Linked DNA regions of Homo sapiens. The protein of the gene in region 1 purifies or fractionates together with the protein of each later gene. This does not show direct contact. Each region holds a gene or a part of one and is shown on either strand. Other genes may lie near its edges.

The links.
Region 2: the proteins of LGALS9C (region 1) and SLC38A9 purify together in Homo sapiens (affinity purification with mass spectrometry; 3 studies listed by BioGRID and IntAct, with this or other methods). This does not show direct contact.
Region 3: the proteins of LGALS9C (region 1) and SLC12A4 purify together in Homo sapiens (affinity purification with mass spectrometry; 3 studies listed by BioGRID and IntAct, with this or other methods). This does not show direct contact.

What each region holds. Positions count from the first base shown.
Region 1 is NC_000017.11:18,479,730-18,483,478, reverse strand, and holds part of LGALS9C (galectin-9C), read right to left. Parts: intron 1-3,749. UniProt on the Homo sapiens protein: Binds galactosides.
Region 2 is NC_000005.10:55,649,626-55,653,374, reverse strand, and holds part of SLC38A9 (neutral amino acid transporter 9), read left to right. Parts: intron 1-651; coding exon 652-846; intron 847-3,749.
Region 3 is NC_000016.10:67,961,976-67,965,724, reverse strand, and holds part of SLC12A4 (solute carrier family 12 member 4), read left to right. Parts: intron 1-1,672; exon of another isoform or gene 1,673-1,697; coding exon of another isoform or gene 1,698-1,794; intron 1,795-2,165; coding exon 2,166-2,260; intron 2,261-3,749. UniProt on the Homo sapiens protein: Mediates electroneutral potassium-chloride cotransport when activated by cell swelling. May contribute to cell volume homeostasis in single cells. May be involved in the regulation of basolateral Cl(-) exit in NaCl absorbing epithelia.

The DNA.
Region 1 (3,749 bases):
CCCATGCCAAGCTCCCAGCAAAGTGCCCAGCGCCCTGGCTGGGGACTCAGGAGGCCCAAGGGAACAAAGGGGCCCATCAAGGGTCTGCAGGTTCCACCGAGAGGGTCACCAGAGAGTGTCAAGAAGAAGGCATGCACCTCTCCCCACCACCACCATATAACAATGGCCACCGTGACCTTTGCCCTCCTGACCACCTTCAGCAGAGCCTCTTCCCAGATGCCCTCCGCAGCCCCGAGCCCCAGCGTAGTTTCCCCACCCATCCCAGGCCCCGTGGGCAAGCACTTTGTCAAATTCTCTCTTCCGCGCCTCTTTAAAGGAGCTATGGGCCATGGTGAGGCATGCATCGTTTTGGAGTCAGGCCGACTCCAGGTCTGAATCCTAACTCTGCTGCTCCTGACCTGAGTGGCCTTGGGAAGCCTATTTCACCTCTCTTTGCCTCAGTTTCCTCATCTGTAAAATAGGAAGGTGTTTCTCCTACTGCATATGATTGATGATTTTGTGAGAAAAAGCCTGTGGTAGAAGAGACTGGCACAGAGGAGACGCTTCACCACTGTCACCCACCCCCCACCTTGGTCTCTCTGAGCAAAATTCACAAACTGGTACTTCCAATTTTCAAAGTTTATTCCGAAATGCCTCATATCCGGTGTGGTTCTATAACCTGCATTAAAGCACAGTTCTATCTCATGGCTGATTTTCACATTCTTCAAGTTTTTAATGTCTTCTCTAATATCTCCTTTAGGTCAATTTCCTACACAAATTAAATGCCTAAAGAAGCCAGGCAGGTGATGTGTATGAGTCAGATGGCCAGGTAGGGAGTGGTGGGGACTGTGGCAAAGTAGACGTCACACGCCTCATCTAAAAAGTCAACATCTTCTCAGCACTAACCAATGATTACCGTCTGGGCTTAGTATTGGCAGAACTTCCAAATTTTTAAGATGAGACAGAAACCTGAATTTTTTTTTTTTTTTTTTGTAAAACTTTCTAATTTCTTGGGGGAAATCTTTTGTCAAAAAGGATTATGTAAAAGTTCCTGACTGGGCACAGTGGCTCACATCTATAATCCCAGCATTTTGGGAGGCTGAGGTAAAACAATCACTTGAGCCCAGGAGTTTTAGGCCAGCCTGGGCAACATAGTGGGACCCCCATCTCTACAAAAAATAAAAAAATTGGCCAGATGTGGTGGTGCACACCTTTAACCCCAGTTACTTGGGAGGCTGAGGTGGGAGGATCACTTGAGCCTGGGAGGTCGAGGCTGTAGTGAGCCACGATTGCACCACTGCACTCCAGCCTGGGCAACAAAGCGAGACCCTGTCTCAAATGAAACTCCCCAAATTCCCACATTGTAGAGATACACAATGAAATATTTACAATGGAATGAAATCTCTGGATTTGCTTCCGCATATCTGAAGGTGGGAAGAGAAGCAAGCGAGGGAGGGTATAGGATGAAGCAAGATAGGCCTGAGTTGATCATTGTTGGAGCAGAGTGATGGGTGTGTGTTGTTGATGGTACAATTCTCTCTGCATGTTTGAATTTCCTATAATAACAAGTTAAAATAAACACTGTGCAGGCCAAACAGAAAACACCCACTAGCCAAATTCAGCCTACTGGTCACTGCTTTCTGGTCTGTATTGTTGAGTTATGTGACCACACAGCACCCTGGGAAACCCATCCTAGCTCAGTGTACACACCTGGCACCGTGAAAGCCCCAGGCAATCTGAGATCTGATCCAGATAGTCTCTGCTCCCCATGGATTTGAGGGGGTTGTCTTTTCTTGCCCCTCAGGTCAGGTCTGAACTCTGCCATTAAATACTTTGGTGACCTCAAGCAAATCACAGCTTCTCTGTGTCTCTGACTTCTCTTTCTTGTCCCTGTCTACACCAGCGGTGTGGGGGAAGGAGAGTCAGCCTGATCCAGTTATGGGCCAGCATGGGCTAGGATTGGGAAGCCTGTTGTCCCTGAAACGCGTCTGTGGAAGATTTTTCCCCTTGCCTGTTTGTGGCAGCCTGTGATTCCCTCCAGAGCCTTTCATTCTATCATGAGAGACAACGCTGAAAATACACACCCTCCTGGGAAGCATGCGGCCTCCACTCAAGCGTATTCACACCACAGCACCTAGAATTGAAGGCAGAGAGTGATGGACATGGGCTCGCAAGTCCACACAAGGCTTAACTAAGGAAGCCAGGAGGGAGAAAGACCAAGTACAGGTCATGGGGGCAGGACAGGGCAGGCTAATCTCCAAGGCAACAAGTTCCCCAAAAAAGTTCTGTGAGGTTTCAAAATGTCTTAAATGGCACCCCCAATTTCTGAAAAACAAGATTATTTTATTATTTATTTTATTTTATTTTATTTTGAGATGGGTTCTCACTCTGTTGCCCAGGCTGGAGTGTAGTGAGGAGTGTGATCATGGATCACTGCAGCCTCCACCTCCTGTGCTCAAGTAATCCTCCCACCTCAGCCTCCCGAGCAGCTGAGACCAAATAAGTGCAGGCCACCAAGCCATGCCCCACTAATTTTCAAATTTTTTTGAAAAGACCAGGTCTCGATATGTTGCCAGGGCTGGTCTTGAACACCTGGGCTCAAGTGATCCTTCTGTCTTGGCCTCCCAAAGGGCCGGGATTTCAGACATGAACCACTATGCCTGTCCTGAAAAATGAGATTTTAAATTGAATATCATCCAACAAACAAGGTTATTCATTGCAGCATTATAACACAAAGGATTATAAAGCAAAGCATTGGAAGGAGCCTAAAAGTCTTCCAACAGGGAAAAGGTGAAATAAATTAGGGTATTTCCATATAATAGAATAAGTTCTGTGTAGCTTTCAAAAGAAAAGAAAAAGAAGACGGAAAAGAAAAAAGAAAAAGAGGAAAACTCTGAGCACCGATATGGAATAATGCCATTTGCATAAAAAGTGGGTAGGGGAAGGCTATGGACTTGCATTTATTTATTTATAGATAAAATATCTCTGGAAGGATTTACAAGAAACTTATAATACTGGTTATCAGTGGGCGACCCCCCAGAAACATCCACATTCGAATCCCCGGAAACTGTGAATATGTTGTAGAAGGGACTTTGCAGATGTGATTAAATGCATAATTTTGGCATGGGGAGATTGTCTTGGATTATACAGGTGGTCCCAATGTAATCACAAAGGTCCCATAAAAGGGAGCAGGAGGATCAAAGTCAGAGGTAAGAGATGTGACAACAGAAGCAAGAAGCTGGTTTTGGGGGTTTTGTTTGTTTGTTTGTTGTGTTTTTTTTTTTTTTTTTTGAGACAGGATCTCATTCTGTCACCCAGGCTGGAGTGCAGTGGCATGATCTCAACTCACTGCAGCCTCCACTTCCCCAGGCTCACGCGATCCTCCCACCTCAGCCTCCCAGGTAGCTGGGACTACAGGCATGCACCACCATGCCTGGCTAATTTTTGTCTATTCTTTGTAGAGACACAGTCTCAGTTTGTTGCCCAGGCTGGTCTCCAACTCCTGGGCTAAAGAGATCCTCCTGCCTCAGCTTCCCAAAGTGCTGGGATTACAGGCATGAGCCACTGCACCCAGACAAAGCTGCTGGTTTTAAAGATGGCAGGAGGGGTCATAAGCCAAGGCAGGCAGGCAGCCTCTAGAAGCTGGAAAAGCAAAAGAAACAGATTCTCCCCTGGAGCCTCCGGAAGGAGACAACCTTGCTCACACGATGATTTTAACATCTGCCCTCCAGAATCATTAAGAAAGCAAATTTGTTGTTTTAAGATTGGCC
Region 2 (3,749 bases), on another chromosome or scaffold:
AAGACCAAATACCATCCAGCCCAGTATTTTCTCTCTGGCAATGGAACCAAGGGATATTTGGTGGGATATTTTTATAGTTTCCAGTAGAGTTTAAAGATAATATCTCAGGGCTGGGCGCAGTAGCTCACGCCTGTAATGCCAGCACTTTGAGAAGCCAAGGTGGGTGGATCACCTCAGGTCAGGAGTTTGAGACCAGCCTGACCAACATGGTAAAATGCCCTCTCTACTAAAAATACAAAAATTAGCTGGGCATGGTGATGTGTGCCTGTAGTTCCAGCTACTTGGGAGGCTGCAACAAGAGAATCGCTTGAATCCAGGAGGCGGAGGTTGCAGTGAGCCGAGATCACGCCACTGGACTCCAGCCTGGGCGACAGAGCGAGACTCTGTCTCAGAAAATAAATAAATAAAAATAATGATAATATCTCAGAAATTTTAAAGATTCCCTCACCCTTATTTATTTTTAGGTGAAAGAGTCCTAATATTCCTAAAATTAACCCTCTATTTTTTCCAGAAAAGAGAAATTTAGGCTCCTAGGAAGAGTTGAGGTTGGTAGAGCAAGTGTCTGTCTCTAGAGGCAGTCATTTTCTGTTTTTTGTTTTGTTTTGTTTTGTTTTTTGTCATCTTCTTTAATCTGGTGCTTTCCTATTGCAGTGATTTGTCCAAGTGCCGGGAGTGGAGGCCATCCTGACAACAGCTCTATGATTTTCTATGCCAATGACACAGGAGCCCAACAGTTTGAAAAGTGGTGGGATAAGTCCAGGACAGTCCCCTTTTATCTTGTAGGGCTCCTCCTCCCACTGCTCAATTTCAAGTCTCCTTCATTTTTTTCAAAATTTAATATCCTAGGTAAGTAGTAGCACTGAATTATGGAGACTTTGTGTAATAGAATACGTGGTGGAGTCTAGGGAAATATGGTCTGATTGGGGAGTTACCTTCCAAGCCTGTTCATCTGTGTTTAATTTGTTCATTCGTTTTTGTTTTGTTCTTTCTTTCTTTCTTTTTTTTTTTTTTTTTTTTGAGACGGAGTTTCACTGTTGTTGCCCAGGGTGGAGTGCAATGGCTCAATCTTGGCTCACTGCAACCTCTGCTTCCGGGGTTCAAGCAATTCTTGGCCTCAGCCTCCCAAGTAGCTGGGATTACAGGTATGCGCCACCACACCCAGCTAATTTTGTATTTTTGGTAGAGGTGGGATTTCACCATGTTGTCCAGGCTGGTCTCAAACCCCTGACCTTAGGTGATCGACCTGCCTCAGCCTCCCAAAGTGCTGGGATTACAGGTGTGAGCCAGCACGCCCGGCAATTTGTTCATTCTTATGATAACCTGATTTTTTCTATTTTTTTTTATGGAGTTTGGCATGGAGAAAAGTGTAGATGACCATTTTTGGTTTTGTTGTGTGTGTGTGTTTTTTTTTTTTGAGACATGAATTATTTGGTTTCTCATTCTAAACTTACTGAACAATTCTTCCTCATTTTCTCTGAGGATACAACTAGACGAAATACACGAAAATTTCAGGAGGAGAGATCCAAATTGGATATTATAGGAATTCTTGATTCTAACGGTTGGAAACAGAACTTACTAAGGAAAGTTATAGAATGTTTTTTCCTACAGTCTCTAAGAGTATTGTGCAGAATTGTCACCTGACTTTGAACCTGGGAAATCATTCTCTATCTCAGGCTTCGTAGGTTTATTTTGCTTTTGCTCTCTTCCTCAGTGCTTTTTTTTCTTAGAACGCTATTGCCTTCTTCAAGGAACAGACCTCTTTCTGTGAGCCCTGCTTTTCAGAAACCACTAAACGAATGTTTTTACTCCACTTAAGATGGCAAAAGGGGCCAGGTGTGGTGGCTCACGCCTGTATTCCCAACACTTTGGGAGGCTGACGCAGGTGGATCACGAGGTCAGGAGTTCAAGACCAGCTTGGCCAAGATGGTGAAACCCTGTCTCTACTAAAAATAGAAAAATTAGCCGGGCGTGGTGGCTGGTGCCTGTAATCCCAGCTACTTGGGAGGCTGAGGCAGAGAATTGCTTGAACCTGGGAGGTGGAGGTTGCAGTGAGCCAAGATTATGCCACTGCACTCCAGCCTGGGTGACAGAATGAGACTCTGTCTTAAAAAAAAAAAAAAAAAAAAGATGGCAAAAGGAACCCCCCCAGTGAAAGTTCAGATCTGGCTAACCAAGGACAAGGATATCATTCATAAGGAATCGATAACTCCACATAAACCATACGATTTCACTTCCTCCCTGTGGATGTGATCTCTGGCAGGCAGTCTAGAGCATAAAATAGATAGGCTGGGTGCGGTGGCTCACGCCTGTAATCCCAGCACTTTGGGAAGCTGAGGCAGGCAGATCACCTGAGGTCAGGAGTTCGAGACCAAACTGACCAACATGGAGCAACCCTGTCTCTACTAAAAATACAAAATTAGCCAGGCATGGTGGCGCATGCCTGTAATCCCAGCTACTCGGGAGGCTGAGGCAGGAGAACTGCTTAAACCCAGGAGGCGGAGGTTGCAGTGAGCCGAGATCATGCCATTGCACTCCAGCGTGGGCAACAAGAGCGAAAACTCTGTCTCAACAAATAAATAAATAAATAACCCAGCATATCAAGGAACAAGGCAGTGGCTTCTAGGTTTCCAGAAGACCAAAGGAAAAGTTAAAATTATTTCTCTTTGCCTGTCTGCCTCAGGAACAGGATTCACTGTAAGCTGCCATAGACACACAGAAGATGAAGAGTTGTGGTTATATAAGCTCTGGCGTCCTGTTTTCATCCTTTCTGAATCAGCTAATCTCCAAACCCACAGTACTGCTTATATCGCTCATTCGTGGTTTCCTGATTTGCTTGCCAACTTTTCTGTGAAACAGATCTTTTAAAAGAATATAAACTTATAGAAGGATTTGCTCAATTGGGCACAACAATCACCAGACTTCCAACCAGGTTGATTGTTCATTCTTCAGCTCCTTAAGGATATTCTGCTTTTGTTCTTTTCCTTGGTACTTTCCCTTTCTCTTAAAACCATAGCTTCATTAGAGGAATTAGCATCTAAGGCCTTCCTGAATTTTCTGACTCTACTCCATAATGACTAGACTTAATTTCTTAAAAGGAATAATCTTCTACCTTCTACACTACTAAAATATTCTGAATGCCCATTTTACCTTGTATATAATACCTGAGAATGGAGTCTGGAATCTCTGTCTAGCAAGTAGTGCTACCCAGTCAAAACCTCATCTAGATACTAGATCAGGATTGTTCATGTATTTGGCTTCTCACCTTTCTCAAATATGCTTTTGATCCACATTCACTGCTTTTCTTTCTTTACCCTCTTACCATCTCACATTAAATACTGTGACAGACTGACTCTAACACTTCCAATTCAAAGAATAAAAGTAAGTTTCATGTTGTTTTTTTCAATCCTATGTAATCCTATAATTTTGTAATGGACTCTCTGCTTGTATCTTCTGCTTAAACTCAACTCATAAGTAAATGAAGCAGTTTTGCATTCAGCATTGTATGAGCTACCTTCATCTGATTCTTCTTTTCTTATTCTTTTTTTTTTCCTTTGAGATGGAGTCTCGCTCTGTTGCCCAGGCTGGAGTGCAGTGGTGCAATCTTGGCTCACTGCAAACTCTGCTTCCCGAATTCAAGTGATTCTCCTGTCTCAGCCTCCCGAGTAGCTGTGATTATAGGCGTGTGCCACCACACCTGGCTAACTTTTGTATTTTTAGTAGAGATGAAGTTTCGCCATGTTGGCCGGTTT
Region 3 (3,749 bases), on another chromosome or scaffold:
CTTAGAGGACCATTTACAGGCATTTGTGGGGAGCTGCTGTGTGCTCAGCTGTATATTTTCTGGATAGCAATACAGTCTACCCAGAAAGACCAGGCAACAGTGATGGGGCAGGCTGTAGTACATGAGTTTAGAATAAATTATAATTGATTTCCAGCCTACTTCCACAAAAGAATCAGAAGAAATAGCCAACAAAAGTGTCTCCCCAAGTGATTGTTACTCTCAGGAAGATTGAAAACCATGCAGAGGAAGGGGGCAAGCACTCAGGTGAGACAGATGGTGACTTTATCTAAAGAGTAAATTTAGCTTGGAGATTCCTGGCAGCCAAAGCAGAAAGAGAAGTAAGACGAGCTGTATAACTGGCATTTTCTGACAAAATGAAGCACCTGATTTATCAAAGGGAGACACTTTTTTTGTCACAAAAATCCAAAAGTAATTTTCAAAGGCTTTTCACTGAAGAGCCATTAATGTCATTAATGTAAGAGGCAGAGTGTTACTGGGTTTTCAGATTTTTCTTGGGACTCCTTCTGATCCTGAACAAGCATGGAGGGTACAGCAGATATCATAGAGTGTCCGACATGACCCCGCCTGGCTTTAACATGACACGGTGGACTGTCTTGACCTCTGGCTGCCTTTGTCCACTGTGCCATTGGCATTGACCTATGTGAATGTGGGGCTGAGCTGCTTGGCTCACTTAGCTAGTCCAGGTTGCTGGGTGTAGCAGGTGTGCCACTTTCACATGCTGTGGGAAGGAAGAACTGACTTTGCCCCAGAAACTGTCATGGGCACACTTGATTTGTTAGTTTCCTTGGGGGATAAAGAATCCACAGCACAGCACCTGCTGAGTGGTTGTTGGCTCAGAGAAAGCAATTGAAGCCTCATGCTGATAGCAAGAGATGTATCAGATACAGGAGGATGCCTCAATCAGCATTCTCAGCTGCAGTCAAGAAAAATGAATTGTGGCCTATGTAAACAGAAAAGGTTGGCGGGCATGGCCAGTGCATGGCCCAATCACACCACTAGCCTGGGCTGGTGGTGACAGTTCTGTTGCCATCTCCATCACTGGACACCATGCCAGTCCTTCTCATGTCAGAACTACATACTGCTGCCATCCAACACCAAGATGTGTGCTTTCCATTTGCTGTGAGGCCTTGAGCCAGGGCCGGGGCTGCGAGGGTAGCTGGGGTGGAGGGAACACTCAGCACCTAGAAAACGAGTGCTTGGCGTTCTGCTTGGTGGGAAGCTGGGAATGGCACCCACCGAGACTCATAAGGGACAAGAGTTGGAAAACAGGGAAGAATGAATGATAGGAGGCCAGAAAAAACAGTCGAGCTTTGGGAGTTGAGGCAGGCTTATTGAAAAGGAGCATTTCACTCCTTTTGGCGAGATTTCTCAGAGCTGGGGCACTGGCTCATCAGCCTAGGGCTGTAGGCGGAGGTTTGCCTGGGGCAAGCGGCGGGATCTGCGGGCAAGGGGGCCATTGTGTTGCTCCTGCCAGCAGTCCCAGCTCCCATTTTTCTCCCTGCTCAGTCCGACACCCACCCGTCCGACTTTCTTAGGCAACCCTAGAAGGCTCCTGGAATCCACTTCCGCTCTCCACGGCCTGGGGCTTGCCCCACCTCCCGGCATGCCCCGGGCTGCCCTGCAGGACGCCCCCCGCGCAGTGCATGGTGGGGTAGCCAGCCGGCCACCTTTGGGCCATGGCAGCCGAAGGTGCTGTGTGCGGCTTCGTCTATCTGGAGGGCACTGCCTGGGCGGTCCCTGAGGACACCGAACCCTTGGCATCCTGCACATTGGGTACTCCGGAAAGACCGGGAAAGGGACTGGGGCGTGGAGGCGATCTGGGGGCGGGTCAAACGCTGGCCCCGCCCCTCTGCAGGCCCCGTCCCTCAGTGTCCATACGTGCTTGTGCTAGGGCGCCTGCGCCCTCACCTGGATTCCCTTCACTGGAGGGAATGATGTCCCAGGTTTTGGTCACTGGCCTCTCTCTGGCTATCCCTGGGCCTTCAAGAGCATTGGCACGGTGCCATGTGAAAACTGAGTTGCAACCTGGTGACACTGCAGCTCCAAAGTGCTCCACAGAAATGATTTGGGGACTGGCTTTCTGGGAAGGGGCCCAGGCTGGGGGGCTCAGGAAGCAGGCCCTGATTGTCCCTCTCTCTTCACAGGACATGGCAACCACAGAGAGAGCAGCCCTTTTCTTTCCCCCTTGGAGGCTTCCAGAGGAATTGACTACTATGACAGGAACCTGGCACTGTTTGAGGTAGCTGAGGAGCCATTTTGGGCCACAGGTTTGGCACACAGAGGCTTTAGCTAAGCAGGCAGGCTGGACACGTGGGCCTCCTCTGTCTTGCTCTTCCTCTCATCTCCTCTTGTGTTCCTGGTTCTCATGGCAGCCGGGCTGCAGTTCCCTTGGCCCTTTCAACTGAAACTGCCTTTCCAGAGGCCACTCACAATCCCACCCCCATTGCTACCTCCAGGGTGGTTCACCTCTGACTTCCTTACAACCCCTCAGCAAGGAAACGCCCGCTTAGGATTTCCCAACTCAGGATTTCTCCTCTTCCTTCCACTCCTGGTTCTTCTCCAAGTCCATGGTTCTTCGCTCTCCCATGGATTCTTCCTTGTCTTTCTTGGTTGACCCTTCCAGCTCTGTCCCTCTCTAGTTCCCTGAGTCCTGGTCCATTTGCAGCTTTAGGGGATACGTCTCTGGAAAGATTCCCAAATATCTGCCTCTGTACTTGAGTTTTATCTTCTTCAGACTCAAGCTGAGCAGTGAGATCTGGATTTAAGACGTAGTTTAAGCTCCTAAACTCTGACCCATGCATTCAGCCACTGCATGGCTGAGTAATGGAGACTCCTTAATCTGCCTTTTTTTTCTCTTTCTTCATTTTGAGATGGAGTCTCACTCTGTCGCCCCAGGCTGGAGTGCAGTGACGCGATCTCAGCTCATTGCAACCTCTGCCTTCCAAGCTCAGCGATTCTCCTGCCTCAGCCTCCCGAGTAGCTGGGATTACAGGTGCCCACCACATGCCTGGCTAATTTTTGTGTTTTTAGAGACGGGGTTTCACCGTGTTGGCCAGGCTGGTCTTGAACTCCTGACTTCTAGTGATCCTCCTGCTCAGCCTCTCAAAGTGCTGGAATTACTGCTGTGAGCCACCACATCTGGCCGAGGCTCCTTAATCTCCACATGCCCCCAAGGGCCCTCGTCTTCCTTTCTCACACCAAAGCAACTTCTCCCTGTGTGTAGGTCAGAAAGGAGCTGACAGAGAGGGAAAAGCTAAATGTGGGCAGGAGGCAGGTAGAAGCACAGCCTCGAGAAGGCTGCAGGAGCAGGGATCATCGCCTAGACCCCGGTGGGGCTGGGGGACCTGAGCTCTGGGAGGCCTCCTGACCTGGGAAAGCAGCAAGGTTCTGCGGTGAAGGCCTTGGCCCAGCCCCGCCTGAGGATGGGCTGGAGGATCAGGATCCCATCTCCGCGATTGATGTGGGTACTTGCAGGACTGGGGTCAGGGGAAGACCATCCAGGGAGATCAGGGTTTGGGCAGACAAGGGAGACTTCACTTGTCCCAGACATCACTCTTTTGCCCTCTTTGGTTCCCTGAGGTGACTAGAGTGGCTTTTTTGTGGGGAGGGTAGGCGTGAGTCCTAGAGGTGCAGCCATAGCCAGGAGGTGGCTGGGCAGAGCAGGCAGGATGAAGTATGCCATTGCCCCCCTGCCAGCCGTGTTCTTCCCTGCCCTCTCTCCCCTGAGG